Linked DNA regions of Homo sapiens: region 1 is linked to region 2. The links come from fine-mapping of genetic effects on gene expression. Tissue or cell type: fibroblasts. Region 2 holds a variant in brackets; the other region holds the start of a gene. All regions are shown on one strand. Distances are from middle to middle.

Region 1 (8,105 bases), 300 kb before region 2:
CATGATACAAAAATATAACACGAAAGCTTAAATGCACAGGAAGAAAGTCACATTAAATACATTTGAAAAAATGGCTGGGAGCGGGGGCTCATGCCTGTAATCATAGCACTTTGGGAGGCTGAGGCAGGTGGATCACAAGGTCAGGAGATCGGGGCCATCCTGGCTAACACGTTGAAACCCTGTCTCTACTAAAAATACAAAAAAAAAAAAAAAAATAGCTAGGTGTGGTGGCGCACACCTGTAATCCCAGCTACTCGGGAGGCTGAGGCAGAAGTGTTGCTTGAACCTGGGAGGCAGAGGTTGCAGTGTGCCGAGATCATGCCATTGCACTCCAGCCCAGGAGAGAGCGAGAGACTCCGTATCAAAAAAAAAAAAAAAAAGAAAGAAAAAGAAAAATAACAACCTTTGTCAACTACACTATAATATTTAACTAAGGGAATCCTATCAGCGTTTATTCGAAAATGTAAGCAACCTTTATTATTTTACTATCCTGAAGGATGTAATAAACCCATGCTTTTGTTCAACCTAATAACTGGTAGATTACCCAATCAAGTAGTTAACTCAGGTTAGCTACAGGAAAAAAAAAACAAAAAACAAAAAACACAACAACAAAAAAACGCCATTAGCCTGGCACAATGTGCATTCAGTAACCTGTAATCAACTACTAAGTAAATTACAGAAGCAGAAAACAGAGCTGCATGTTTGTTACAAAAAAAAAAAAAAAGGAGAAAGCTTATAACAACTTCCACTTCTTAAGCCATATTGACTCACATTAATTTAGGATGCCTGAGGCTATGAGTATGGTACCCTGAGGTGTAAGTGAAGGTGATCTTCTCTTCTCACGTCTATGAACAATATTTTCCCAACTTTGTTTTTAAAGTGAGAATTAGGGTATAGATAGATGCTTTGTAATTTTTCCATCCAAAAGCTTGAATAAATGGTTAATTGCTGACTTAAATTGCAATAAAGAAGTGTCCTAATTTCAAACAAGGATGCTCACTTTCAGAATCTCATAATCTTTTCAAAATTCTATTTTATTCATAAATAGGATAAAAATCTTTTTGCAAGCTTCACTAAGTCTCTCCATAAGCCCCTGCCCAACAGATGCAAGTTCAATAGCTAGAATTCAAACCAGATAATTTATTGGCTTACAAATGAATTGGCATCTATAAAAATAAGCCTTCTAAAAAGGCTTCACGCTGTTTAAATCCTTCTAAAATGCTCTGGCTAAGCTTGCCCACCCTTTATCAATGTAAGACTGATAAAATGCATTTTCATTATCAACATAAAATGGAAGCATCAAGATAGTTGAAATGTTAGTTTAGAAAGTCATTTGCAGTGACATTTAAAACAATTTATTTGAACATTTGACTCATGATAAGAATACTGCCTATTACATTAAGATTGGCTGTTCAGAATTCACTGGAGCCCTATTCTCCCCCTCTGTGACAGTTAACATCTTTTGATATTAAGGGTCATTACACATCTAAAATGAAAAAGAAATAAGAAAAAAGAACCCCACGCCATTCTGAGCAAGTGCCTATTAAAATGACTGATCCTTGACATTTTAATGCAGACTGTATGATGGCTTCCTCTCTATTGCCCCCTGTGAAGCCTTTCCCTGTATTGGTAATAACTTTGCCGATGTCCAACCCTGTGGAACATTCATCCTACCTTTTCCCCACTCTGCAGAATGCTTCCCTCTAAAGAATCACCAGAGAACAGGGAAAATAAACAAATCTGCAAACAAATTCCCGGGCAGTTCACATCACCTCCCAAAGGACACTGACAATAGCTGAAGAGACCACAACACACAAACTCGTTTTTCAGCCAGCCTGTAATGTTCCTCCTATACACACTCTGGAAATCCTCAGCTCCCTTCAACTCCGGAGCAAGAGCCACCAATATTCCAGGTCAGCCACCTATATAATATGCTCACCACGAGAGAAGACTCAAGGTAAAATTAAACTGACAGAAAAAAGGAATTTTCCTTGTTAGATCATCAAGCCTCCGGAATCATGCAAACATGTGTGTATGTTATGGTGTTTACGGGGACCTAACTGAGAAACGTCGTGGTTCCAGGGGCTTCCCTCATGTGTCAGGATGGACTTTATCAGGATTCTCATCCTACAAAGCTACCATGTCAGTCACAAAAGACAACTACGCAATCTGTTTCGATGTAATAAATTCAGGAGTTGAGCTGTATGGCAAGCCCATCTTAGAAGTCCTCAACACCAGGAGAGGATCTGTCCTAGTTAGGAGCAGAAAGCAGATCTCATAATATCCAAGTTGTCTGGAAACATGATATATGGTAGGGCAGTCTTTCCAGCTCCCATTTTGTTGGTGCCTTCACCTCGGGTTGTCAGGGCTGGGGTTAGGGAAATTGCCTCTTTCCGTCTCTATCTCTTTTAACTTCGCAGCGAGAGCTGGAAGCAGTGACTGTTCCCATCACCTAGTGTCCTTCTGTCAGGGGCCGCTTCGGTAGCTACAGAAGCCTAGCCGCTGGAAGCTTCCTTCCCCGACACTCCATACCTCCATGCCACACCTTTTAGGCAATAACCAAATGTCATTTTGTTCTTTCCCCTTCTCCTGGGCATTATACTGGGAAACTGTTTACGCGCATCGACCCCGCACACCTCCAAAAATCTCCACTTTCCGGGCTCCAAGCAGCTCTCCGCTACTCAGACAGCCCAGGCTAACACCTCGGATTTCCCCATGCAGTTTCCTCTGCAGCGTCTCAATCACAAGGCTGTACGGGCGGCACATGCCAACGGAACCACCACCCCTTCTGCTCCCTCGGGGACTCAAGCCTGCTCTCGGTCAAAGCACAGAAGCGGCTTTCAGCTCCGGGCAGGCGGCCGGGGCGTCGGGGGTACTGGAAGTGCCCAAACCCAGCGGTGCTGCCGCGCGGGGAAGCGGAGGTGCGGCCGCAGGACAAGCGCGCCTCCCAAGTCCCTGGCCACCTGCGATGCGTCCTCAACTCGCCTGCCCATCGCCACTACCAGAAACCTCAGACAGCCCATTGTGTGGGCAGGCAGCGCGCTCCCCCGGCCCCGCCGCCCTCGCCTACCTTCTGTCGGTCTCTCCGGAGCGCCCGCACAGCCGGCAGCCCGCCTCCAGCGCTCTGCAAAGCGAAGGAGGACGCTTTGTTAGGGCTGGAGAAACGGGACAATACTTCGCAGCCGGCGCAGCGGTTCCGGGCGGGCGTCCTTCAAAAGGACGCGAATGGGGACCCGCGTGAGCGTCATTTCCATATGTAAGGGGCCAGCTCTTACAAAAGCGCGGCTCTCGGGGGCCGCGGGCTGCAGCGCGCATCCTCCCCGCCCCCGCCGGCCCGCCCCCGCCCGCGCAGCCCGCGCCTCCGGGACCGGCCCCTCCTCCCGCCTCCGAAGCAGCCCCGTCCCCGCCTCGTCCTCCCGCCCGGCCGCTGCTTCCTCCCGGCCCGCAGGGATTGCGCCCCGCTGGCCCCGGACCCCAAATGGGAAGCCCCCGAGTGATCCGGTGCCCAGTTCGCTCCGGGCTCTCAGGGCCTCGCCGACGGCGCGGGGGCAGCGCGAGGCCTCCGTGCACCCCCAGGCCGTGGGTCCGGGTCCCCGGGGTTGCGCCACTTACTGCGTCCCGGGGCTCAGGCGCCCGGCGCCGCCGCGGGAACCATGGCCGCTGGCGCACTCCGGGCTTGGCGGCGGCAGCGGGACGGCCGCGCCCAGCGCGCTCGGCTCCCGGCTCGGCCGCGGCCACCCGGAGCTCTGGACGCCGGGGAGGAAGGGCCGGGCCCGCGCGGGGAGGAGGAGTCAGGGCGACGCCGGCCCCGGCGCGGCTCCTCCTCTGCGGCCCGCGCGGCTCAGGCAGCGGAGGGAGGAGCGGGCGGCGCCGCCTGAGCCCTCGCAGACGCGCCCTCCCGCTCCGAGCGCCCGCCTCCGAGATCTGAAGTTAGAAACGCCGGGGCTCCGGGTGCGGGTGTAGGAGGCTGGCGCCCCGAGGTCGCCACCGAGCTGGGGCTGGCGCTGCCACCCTCGCCCCTTGCCTGTCCGCCTCCCTTTCTTTCCCAACACGCCTACACTCACCCGCACCGCGGACACTCGGGCCGCAGCGTCTTCGCGCAGAGGAAGGGCCCCCGCCTTCAGCAAGCGGGACTTTAAGGGGGTGATTTCCCAGCCCTCGGGTGTCGATTGGCCATCAACATTGGAAAGGGTGTTCAGGAGGCAGAAGGGCTGTAGAAGTGACTCGGAACCCTGTAGAGCGAGCGCGACCCTCCTGCCGGGTCTACACTGGCTTCCGCACCTGCCCACCACGTCCTCACAGGCTCCCGCCCCTGTGCAGCCTTCTCCGGGTGAAGCTAACCCTCGGTCGCAAGCCACACAGGACGAAAACTCCTTGGAGTTGGTGGTTCCCAGCCCAACAGTTGCTCGATATTAATCGCCTCCTACCTACTACCCCAGAGTCTGCGTTCTCACTCCCCCATCCCTACACTTCTGATCTCATTGCAGTCAAATAGGATCCCAAGTCCAGGCCATGGTTCTTTTTGAGCTGCAGGGTTAAATGTGTTGCCCTTGAAGGATCCGCCTGATGGATTACAACCCACAAGTCTGGTTATTTTAGCAGGAAACTGGTGATTCCTTTTCTACCGAGAAAGCAAGCAACAGACAAGAGGAAACCAGCATTCCTTGAGAATCCAGTGCGCTAGAAACTCGACAGAAATTATCTTATCTAATTCTCACATCACTCTTAGGAGGCAGACATTATTTTGCAGATGAGGAAAATGGATCTCCCAGAAGTCAAAGAGCTTCCTCAGGATCACACAGCAGGAACTCCACAGAACTGAGATTCAAAAGCAGATCACATATGTGGCAAAATTGCATAGAACTGAATATACACTCACAAATGAGAGCACGTGAAACTCATGAAATTTGAATAAGACATTTGGACTACACTAATGTCCATTTACTGATTGTAATATTGTTCTACAGTTATGCAAAATGTTACCATTGAGAAAAATTAAGTGAAGCGTCTATAGGGAATCTCTCTATTATTCCTTACAACTTCAAGCGAATTTACAGTTACCTCAAAAAATTTTTTTAAAAATTTTAAACATCTCAGTCTTATTCAAAAGCCCAGGCTCTCTTCTTTCAACACGGTATATAAGCGTGCCTGCAGAATAAGAGAGATTTATGCTCCTCTCTCCTTTTTAAACAGTCTTGAATAAGTACACATACACACACAAACACACACTCATACACTGTATGCATGGTTGTTCAGTCATCCAGTAATATGATACAACACACACACACACACACGCAGTTCATTAAGAGGATAGCTAACCTGTTACCAGAATACTTACATAGAGGTCATCTTGTAAGACAGACAATAATGCTCACTGGGCACTAAAACAGCCAACAGTCTTGGAAGGTAAGAATGAAGAGGTGTCTTTCTTGTTTCACCTAATCTCTGCCATGGAAGCCTCATCCTACTGGTTACCTCTCCAAGCATCGCTTTTTAACCTGCAAGAATCCTTAAGGATGATATTGATCATTAGTTTAAAACAGTGATTCCTGGGGGTCAGGGGATATTGGAAGTGGCATTCACTCCCTGTGCAGGAAGATCAGAATTGCTGGGGGTTGTGTAATTTGAAAAACACAAGATGCGCTTTCTTGAGAGGAGTAAGTGGGGTGGAGTTAGCCCTGGGACTGGGAACTGGGATCACCTCCAGCCTTGCTACAAAGGAGGGAAAGCATGGAGCATGGTTACCGCGTGGTGTGGGTTGGCAAGAGCAACTCTACCAAGAAAGATGATTTATTTAACACAATGGGCCTGCAGTTTGGTTTGCACTGAGCACATGGTTAGTCTTAGTCCAAACTGGAGTCATGGGAAAAAAAAGCAGAGACTTCCTTTAGAGCCCATTACTTGATCTTTTCTCTGTTAAACACAAAATAACAGCAGAAGTAGCAACCAGGCTCCAGTTCTACATTATAACCAATATAAGAGAGAAAAGAAGAAATGTAAATATTTATTCAGAGTTATCACCCTTTACAAACAAAACTTCACTCTTATCTGTTGCAGCTTATCTGACTCTGATTTTTACTCTCACTTTACAAAGAACCTTGTTCAAGGACCTAGGATCCTTGAAGTATTTGTACGTGAAGTTTTTGAAGGGTTTTCTGCCATATTTCACAGTACGGAACTGGCTTTCTCAGATGGTTAAAGCTCTAAAACGTTAACTAAAGAATAATCCAGGGAAGAGAAAGTTACTCTTTGTTTCTTTTCTTTCTTTTTATTTATTTATTTATTTATTTTTTGAGATGGAGTCTTACTGTGTCGCCCAGGCTGGAGTGCAGTGGTGCAATCTTGTCTCACTGAAACCTCCACCTCCTGGCCTCCTGCGTTCAAGCGATTCTTCTGACTCATCCTCCCAAGTAGCTGGGATTACAGATGTGCACAACCACATCTGGCTAATTTTTGAATTTTTAGTAGAGACAAGGTTTCACCATGTTGGTCAAGCTGGTCTTGAATTCCTGACCTCAAGTGATCCTGCCTCGGCCTCCCAAAGTGCTGGGATTACAGGCGTGAGCCACCACGCCTGGCCTACTCTTTGTTTCTTCTTGAAGTAATTTTGAAATTATCAGTTTAGAGTCAAGACGACAAATGAGAGAGAGAGAGAAAAAGAGAGAGAAAAAGTCAGGCTTTGTAAATTTCCTGGAACCTGAAAAGTTATTTTTTTTTTTCTTAGCCAAAAAAAGGCTCTAACCAAACATAGTCTACCCTCTCCCAACTCACAGTTGGGTATAAACTATTTTTTATTCACAGAATAGTCAAACAGCCTGTCACTCATGTAGCAACTCCTGGCTCCTTCTAAACTTCTTTAATCGATATCTTTCTTATTTCTGTGACCATTTGAACTCAGCAGGACAGTTTTCAGGCAAGTTGCAGAGCTGTGTCAAAGACAGCCAGATTGTTAAAGTAGATGATCAGTTATAGTTTGGCCCAGGAACTCACTCGGTGAAAGAAAGGGACATCAATGATCTCCCCAAGGCCCTAAGGAAAATGAATGAGGAAAGGAAAAAGGGAGAAATTTGAGTTCCAGACATACAAGTCAGGGACTTAAGAGTTCCAGCAGCAAAATGTTGGTGGTTAAGAACCCAGGAAGAAAGAGGAAAAGTATAGGAAAGGGAAGGGAAGGTGACAGAAGGCAAACTGATTTACACTTTTGCCCCTGGGGGACACCTATTAGAAATTAGGATTCTCTATTCATTTTCCTTATGAAGAAAATGAAAGAAGAGGAAACCAGGATTCCATACAATTTATTTTTTTAAAGTAAGCATTGATTGCCTACCCTGTGCCTAATACTGTCCTGAAAGTCACACAATGTTCAAAATAAACATCAGGCTGGGCATGGTGGCTCACACCTGTAATCCCAACATTTCTGGGGGCTAAGGTGGGTGGATGGCTTGAGCTCAGGAGTTCAAGACCAGCCTGGGCAACACAGTGAGACCCCCCTTCTCTACTCCTCTTTTTTTATTAGCCAGGCTGGGTAGCACGTGCCTCTGGTCCCAACTTCTCAGGAGACTGACATAGGAGCATCGATTGAGCCCAGGAGGTCAAGGCTGCAGTGAACAACGATTACACCACTGCACTTTAGCCTGGTGACAGAGTGAGAACCTGTCTCAAACAAAACAAAATGAAGTAACAATCAACCTTGGTTCTTACCCTTGAGGAATGCATCATTCTCTTTTGGGAAGGTAAAAATATGCACTCATGAGACAGTAAAGGAGTGATGTTAGGTGGCATTGGACTCTAATTACATTCTCCAGTTGGGGGACATACACACGCTACAGCATGGGAAGAAGAGAGCAATGATTTCCCTAAAACGTGGCTTCCATTTGATCATTCTGACCATTGCTTTTCACTTCAGGTCCTAGATCTTTTTCCTGACATTCAAGGTCCTTCCTGATCAATGCAAAGGTATGTATCCTCAGTGTCTGCAGGAAACCTACCCTCCCTCCACTCTGCTCATGTGGACCTTCTAATCTTCCCTCTGCTGCTCTTTCAGCCCAGATCATCAGTCCTCATGTGTATTGAATGCCTTGTCTCTCTGTTCATTGTTTGGCGCA
Region 2 (8,105 bases):
ACAAGAAAAGACATAGAGAATCTTTACTTAATACTTATACCTATCTGTACTGTTTGGAATGTTTCCATAGTCGTATAGTACTTTTATAAAATACACAAGTGAAAACTAGCAAGTTTTGTGTTCGCCATCATTTATAGGCAATGGCTATGGGACAAATTGTATCAACAACATGCCGAAGGTGAGATGGGAAGTCGTTACCCTGCTCTGGCATTGGTGAGGAAGCTGTTGATAAACAGTCCCAGGATAGCAACACAGAATGTCTATATCCAGGTCGTGGCCAGCAGTGGACAGACTCTAAGGTTACTCCCAATGACCCCTGCCTTCTAATATTCAAATCCCCTTCCTTTGAGTGTGAGTAGGATCTGCAACCTACTTCTTTTTTTTTTTTTTTTTTTTTGAGACAGAGTCTCGCTCTGTCGCCCAGGCTGGAGTGCAGTGGCGCAATCTCAGCTCGCTGCAAGCTCCACCTCCTGGGTTCACACCATTCTCCTGCCTCAGCCTCCTGAGTAGCTGGGATTACAGGTGCCTGCCACTATGCCCGGCTAAGTTTTTGTATTTTTAGTACAGATGGGGTTTCACTGTGTTAGCCAGGATGGTCTCAATCTCCTGACCTCGTGATCCGCCTGCCTCGGCCTCCCAAAGTGCTGGGATTACAGGTGTGAGCCACCGCGCCCGGCTGGATCTGCAACCTACTTCTAACCAAAAGCATATGGCAAAGGTGATGGGATATCACCCCTATGATTATGTCATAATACATTAAAGAAGACTCCATGCTACTGGCACTCACTGTTGCTCTCCTACTGGCTCTGTAGAAGCAAGTGGCCATGATGTGACCTGGATATGAAGAGGGCTGTGTGCTGGGAGCTGCAGGCAGCCTCTAGCGGCTGAGGGTGGTCTTTACCCAATACAGCAAGAAACCAAAGCCCTCAGATCTACAGATGCAAGAAGGTGAATTCTGCTAACAACCTGAGTGAGATTGGAAGCAAATTTTCCCTAACTGAGCCTCCAGATGAGAACATAGCCCAGATGACACCTTGATTGCAACCATTTGAGAGCAGAGGACCCAGCTGAATGGTTCCTAGAATCATGACCCATGGAAACTGTGACAGGATAATGTGTGTATGTATGTGTTAGTGTGCATGTTTAATTGCTTTATTGAGGTATAATTTGTATGCTATATAATTCACCTATTTAAAATGTACAATTCAATGAATTTTAGTGTATTCACTGAGTTTGTAAGCATTACCACAATCTTCGAACATTTCATCTCCTCCCAAAAAACCTCCACACACATTAGCAGTTACTCCCCAACTCCTCAGCCCTACACAATTACTAAACTACTGACTGTCTCTATAAATTTGCCTTTTCAAGACATTTCATGTGAATGAACTTGCATAATATGTGGTCTTTTTTGATTGACTTCTTTCACTTAGTCTTGTATTAAGCCCCTAAATATGTGGTAATTTGTTACACAGCATAGAAAACTAATACACATTCACAACAGTTTAACTCTAATATTTATTTCTCAATTGCTCCTCTTCCCTTCTAATCAGGGTCAAAAGAATCCTCCTCATCCATTGTGTCCCTCGTGAGAGCTGCTCATTTGTTAGAACTTTTATTTATCATTCAGGATTCACATAAAAGGTAAGATCCCAAACAGGAGGGAAGCACTCTTCACTTCCATATCATGGATCTTTGTTCCTTTTGAGAAAGTGCTTCAAGGGTTTAGGCTGTGGCTGAGGATCCTATAATGTTTGTTTGGTTTCCCCAAGGACAAATAGAATGTTTACTATGATATTCAAATCTAAACCTTGGTTTTTGTCTGCTTGAACTATCAGTAACAGAGAGGTGTGTTACAGTCTCACTATGATTGTGGATTTCTTGATTCCTCCTTGTAAGCTTCCCCTTACCCTTCACTATCCATCTGCATCCCTTATCCCTGAACTACCCTGGCCTATGGTTTCAGGTCACCTCTGTGGTTTCCAGTGACCCATTTTCTGGCACTTGGAGATGTTCCTGTTTTAAGAATGTATGAATTTGGCTTTGCATTTAAAATAATTTGTATTATATTTTATAAATCCTTTCTAGGCATTGCAGTGGGAGGGTTTTCATGTTTCTCAGTCTGCCATATTGCTGAAATTGGATCAGTCAAAAGTTGATTTTTCTAAAGTCCTAAATGGGACATATTTCCTGTCCCCAGGTGTCTTATAATTTTGTTTATTAACAGTCATCTCAATGCCTCAAGGAATCAGGTGTCACCCTGCAATCCCCTTCCTAACACAGCATCACTAGGCTCCGGCATTTGACCACAACTCACAAGATTCCAGACACCGCCTTGTAAAATGCCATCACTTCCTACCCTCAGATTCAAGTGCATAGATGAACACATGCTTACACACATGCATGTCTTCCTGTCCTCTCCACAGAGTTTCTGAGGGGGTGCCAATAGGCCAGAAACCAGGCAGTAAACTATGGCCACAATGAACCATGCTCAGTTCCCTGAGAATACGATGTTCCTGTGGATGTGCTTTGCACTTACTTTTCCCTTCTTGTGCTATTTTCCTTATTCCCACCTGGCAAACTCCTGTTCATCATTCAAAACCCACCTCAATCCATTCCTTTTGCAAAGCTTTCCCTGCCCTTTTATTGCTTTGCACATCCCTCTACTATTGGATTCATTATACTATATTTTTGCATTTAAATGTCTGTCCACCTCACCAGCCTATGAGCTCTTTGTATCTCTAATGCCTGCCATGTTGCCTGACTCATACCAGGTACTCAACTAATGTTTATTGACTTTAACTTATCAGGATTTCAGGGTGATATCAGGGAAATGTACTGACACTGACTCCCAGAATTGGGTTTATTGGCAATCTACCCCTGGACCTTGAAATCTGAGAAAGTGACACAGGTTATACCTTCTCAAAGGCATTAAAAGGGGGAACTTGGGCTGGGAGTGGCGGCTAATGCCTGCAATCCAGCACTTTCAGAGTCCGAGGTGGGCAGAGCACTTGAGGTTAGGAGTATTACACCAGCCTGGCCAACATGGTGAAACCCTGTCTCTACTACAAGCCTCTTCAGGCGTAACCCTGACCCATCCTTCCTTAGTGGGTGGGGCTTCCCTGCAGGATCTCCAATAATCCCAGCCAGAGGCTCAGGGACAGAATTCAGATCTCCCTGGGCCTGAGCCTCTAGGGGGAAGGGTGGCCACAGTCTCTGCAGACTAGCAGACTTAACCACTCCTCCTGGTAGTTCTGAGGAATCTGGGCAGACCAGATAAGTGGGTTTCCCTCCAGTGAAACATACCCTCTCCACCAAGGGACAAAGTGCTTTGTTAAACGAGTCCTGCTCCCCATGCCACCCAACTGGGTGAGACCCTCCAACATGGGTTGTCAGACACCATATACAGGAGCAATCCTAGTGGCATCAGGTTGGTGTCCTTCAAGGTCAGAGGTCCCAGAAGAAGGATCAGGTACCCATCTTTGCTGCTCTCTAGCCTCCTTGAATGACATCTCCAGGCACAGAGCAAATCAGATTAATAGGGCCTGAAGTAAACCCCTAGCACACAGCAGCAGCCCTACAGAAGAGGGACAGGACTATTGAAGGAAAAACAAGCAGAAAGCAACAATAGCATCATCAACAATAACAAAAACAACAAAAAGACCCCCAAAAAACCCCATCCAAGGGTCAGCAGCCTCAAAGACTGAAACAAGACCAACTCACAAAGACGAGAAATAATCAACAAAGAAAATGCTGAAAACCCAAAAGACCAGAGTGTCTCTTCTCCTCCAAATGATCGCAATGTCTGTCCATCAAGGGCACAGAACTGGATGGAGGATCAGATGGACGAATTGACAGAAGTAAGCATCAGAAGATGAATAGTAAAAACTATGATGAGCTAAAGAAGCATGTTCTAACCCAATGCAAAGAAGCTAAGAACCTTGATAAAAGGTTAGAGGAATTGCTAACTAGAATAACGAGTTTAGAGAGGAATGTAAATGACCTGATGGAGCTGAAAAACATA[G/C]TACAAGAACTTCGTGAAGCATACACAAGTAACAACAGCTGAATTGACCAAGTAGAAGAAAGGATATCAGAGTTTGAAGACCACCTTACTGAAATAAGACATGCAGACAAGAATAGAGAAGAAAGAATGAAAAGGAATGAGCAAAGCCTTTAAGAAATATGGGACTTTATAAAAAGACCAAACCTATGATTGACTGGAGTACCAGAGGAAATGGGGAGAATGGAAACAAGCTGGAAAACACACTTCAGGATATTATCCAGGAGAATTTCTCCAACCTAGAAGACAGGCCAACATGCAAATTCAGGACATACAGAGAACACCATTAAGATACTCCATGAGAAGATCAACCCCAAGACACATAATCGTCAGATTCTCCAAGGTTGAAATGAAGGAAAAAATGTTAAGGGCAGCCAGAGAGAAAGAACAGGTCACCTAGAAAGGGAAGCCCATCAGACTAATGGTAGACCTCTCAGCAAAAACTCTATAAGCCAGAAGAAAGTGTGGGCTAATATTCAACATTCTTAAAATAATTTTCAACCCAGAATTTCATATCCAGCCAAACTAAGCTTCATAAGCAAAGGAGAAATAAAATCCTTTACAGACAAGCAAACGCTGAGGGATTTCATTACCACCAGGCCTGCCCTGCAAGAGCTCCTGAAAGAAGCACTAAATATGGAAAGGAAAAACTGGTACCAACCACTGCAAAAACACAACAAAACATAAAGACCAATGACACTACGAAGAAACTCCATCAACTAGTGTGCAAAATAACCAAATGGCATCATGATGACAGGATCAAATTCACACATAACAATACTAACCTTAAATGTAAATGGACTAAATGCCCCAATTACAAGACACAGACTGGCAAACTGGATAAGGAGTCAAGACCCATCGATGTGCTGTATTCAGGAGACCCAACTTATGTGCAAAGACACACACAGGCTCCAAATAAAAGGTTGGAGGAAAATTTACCAAGTAAATGGAAAGCAAAAAAAAAGCAGGGGTGGCCAGGCATGGTGGCTCACACCTGTAATCCCAGCACCTTGGGAGGCTGAGGGGGGCGGATCACCAGAGGTCAGGAGTTCAGCTCTTGACCAGGCTGGCCAACATGGTGAAACCCCGTCTCTACAAAAAATACAAAAATTAGCTGGGCATGGCGGTGGGCACCTGTAATCCTAGCTACTAGGGAAGCTGAGGCAGGAGAATCTCTTGAACTGGGAGGCAGAGGTTGCAGTGAGCTAAGTTCGTGCCACTGCACTCCAGCCTGGGTGAGAGAGCAAGACTGCATCTCAGAAATAAAAAAAAAAAAGCAGGGGTTGCAATCCTAGGCTCTAACAAAACAGACTTTAAACCGACAAAGATCAAAAAGGATAAAGAGGGCATTACATAATGGTAAAAGGAACAATTCAAGAAGAAGAGCTAACTATTATAAATATATATGCACCCAATACAGGGGCACCCAATAAAACAAGTTCTTAGAGACCTACAAAGAGACAGACTCCCACACAATGATAGTGGGAGACTTTAACACCCCAGTCAGTATTAGACAGATCAACAAGACAGAAAATTAACAAGGATATTCAGGACTTGAACTCAGCTCTGGATCAAGTGTACCTGGTAGACGTCTACAGAACTCTCTACCCCAAATCAACAGAATGTACATTCTTCTCAGTGCTCATGGCACTTATTCTAAAATCGACCACACAATTGGAAGTAAAATACTCCTCAATAAATGCAAAATAACTGAAATCATAACAGTCTCTCAGACCACAATGCAATCAAATTTGAACTCAAGATTAAGAAACTCACTCAAAAGCACACAATTTCATGGAAATTGAACAACCTCCTCCTGAATGACTCCTGTGTAAATAATGAAATTAAGGCAGAAATCAAGAAGTTCTTTGAAACCAATGAGTACAAAGAGACAACACAGCAGAATCCCTGAGACACAGCTAAAGCAGTGTTAAGAAGAAAATTTATAGCACTAAATGCCTACCTCAGAAAGCTAGAAAGATCTCACATTGACACTTTAACATCATAATTAAAAGAGCTAGAGAGGCAAGAGCAAACTAATCCAAAAGCTAGCAGAAGACAAGAAATAACTAAGATCAGAGAAGAATTGAATGAGATAGAGACATGAAAAACCCTCCAAAAATTATATGAATCCAGGAGCAGGTTTTTTTTTTTTTTTTTTTTTTTTGAGACGGAGTCTCGCTCTGTCGCCCAGGCTGGAGTGCAGTGGCGCAATCTCGGCTCACTGCAAGCTCCGCCTCCCGGGTTCACGCCATTCTCCTGCCTCAGCCTCCCAAGTAGCTGGGACTACAGGCGCCCGCCACTACGCCCGGCTAATTTTTTGTATTTTTAGTAGAGACGGGGTTTCACCGTTTTAGCCGGGATGGTCTCGATCTCCTGACCTCGTGATCCGCCCGCCTCGGCCTCCCAAAGTGCTGGGATTACAGGCGTGAGCCACCGCGCCCGGCCTTTTTTTTTAAATTAACGAAACAGATAGACTGCTAGCTAAACTAATAAAGAAGAAGAGAGAGAAGAATCAAATAGACACAATAGAAGATGATAAAGAGGATATCACCACTGACTCCACAGAAATACAAACTACCATCAGAGAATACTATAAACATCTCTATGCAAATAAACTAGAAAATCTAGAAATGGATAAATTCCTGGATGCATACACCCTACCAAGACTAAATCAAAAAGAAGTTGAATCCCTGAATAGACCAATAACAAGCCCTGAATTTGAGGCAGTAATTAATAGCCTACCAACCAAAAAAAAAAAAAAAAAAAAAAAAAGACCAGGACCAGATGGATTCACAGCTGAATTCTACCAGAAATACAAAGAGGAGCTGGTACCATTCCTTCTGAAACTATTCCAAACAGTTAAAAAGGAGGGACTCCTCTCTAACTCATTTTATGAAGCCAGCATCATCCTGATACCAAAACCAGGAAGAGACACAACAAAAAAAGAAAACTTCAGGCCAATATCCCTGATGAACATAGATGCAAAAATTCTCAATAAAATACTGGCAAACCAAATCCAGTAGCACATCAAAAAACTTATCTGCCATGATCTAGTTGGCTTCAGCCTTGGGATGCAAGGCTGGTTCAACATATGCAAATCAATAAATGTAATCCAGCACATAAATGGAACCAAAGAAAAAACCACATGATTATCTAATAGATACAGAAAAGGCCTTTGATAAAATTCAACATCCCTTCATGTTAAAAACTCTCAATAAACTAGGTATTAATAGAACATATATCAAAATAATAAGAGCTATTTATGACAAACCCATAGCCACCATCATATTGAATGGGGAAAAGCTGGAAGCATTCCCTTTGAAAACCAGTACAAGAGAAGGATGCTCTCCTCTCACCACTCCTATTCAACACCGTATTAGAATTTCTGGCCAGGAAATCAGGCAAGAGAAAGAAATAAAGGGTATTCAAATAGGAAGAGAGGAAGTCAAATTGTCTCTGTTTGCAGATGACATGATTTTATATTTAGAAAACCCCATCATCTCAGCCCCAAAACTTCTTTAACTGATAAGCAACTTCAAAAGTCTCAGGATACAAAGTCAATGTGCAAAAATCACAAGCATTCCTTTACACCAACAATAGACAAGCACAGAGCCAAATCATTAATGAAGTCCCATTCACAATTGCTACAAAGAGAATAAAATACCTAGGAATACAGCTAACAAAAGATGTGAAGGACTTCCTCAAGGAGAACTACAAACCACTGCTCAAGGAAATAAGAGAGGGCACAAAAAAATGGAAAAATATTCCATCCTCATGGATAGGAAGAACCAATATTGTGAAAATGGCCACACTGCCCAAAGTAATTTATATATTCAATGCTATTGCCATCAAACTACCACTGACATTCTTCACAGAATTAGAAAAAACAATTTTAAATTTCATATGGAATCAAAGAAGACCCCATATAGCCAAGACAATACTAAGCCAAAAGAACAAAGCTGGAAGCATCACACTACCTGACTTCAAACTATACTACAAGGCTACAGTAACCAAAACAGCATGGTACTGGTACCAAAACAGA

The links. PIP is the estimated chance that this variant, and not a neighbour inherited with it, causes the effect.
Region 1: it holds the start of NIN, and the variant in region 2 is fine-mapped to the expression of NIN in fibroblasts (GTEx, PIP 0.97).

Annotation. Positions count from the first base shown.
Region 1 is chr14:50,827,394-50,835,498 of GRCh38, forward strand. It overlaps NIN (ninein), which reads right to left and starts at 3,769. Exons shown (of 31, transcript NM_020921.4): 1 at 3,613-3,769; 2 at 3,071-3,124. RefSeq lists an enhancer at 2,451-2,500 and silencers at 3,071-3,190, 3,211-3,260, 3,331-3,610, 3,661-4,110.
Region 2 is chr14:51,128,482-51,136,586 of GRCh38, forward strand. No RefSeq gene overlaps it. Among named protein-coding and RNA genes, the nearest start is that of TRIM9, 37 kb to the left of the region's middle. The variant G/C (reference allele first, on the strand shown) is at 4,025.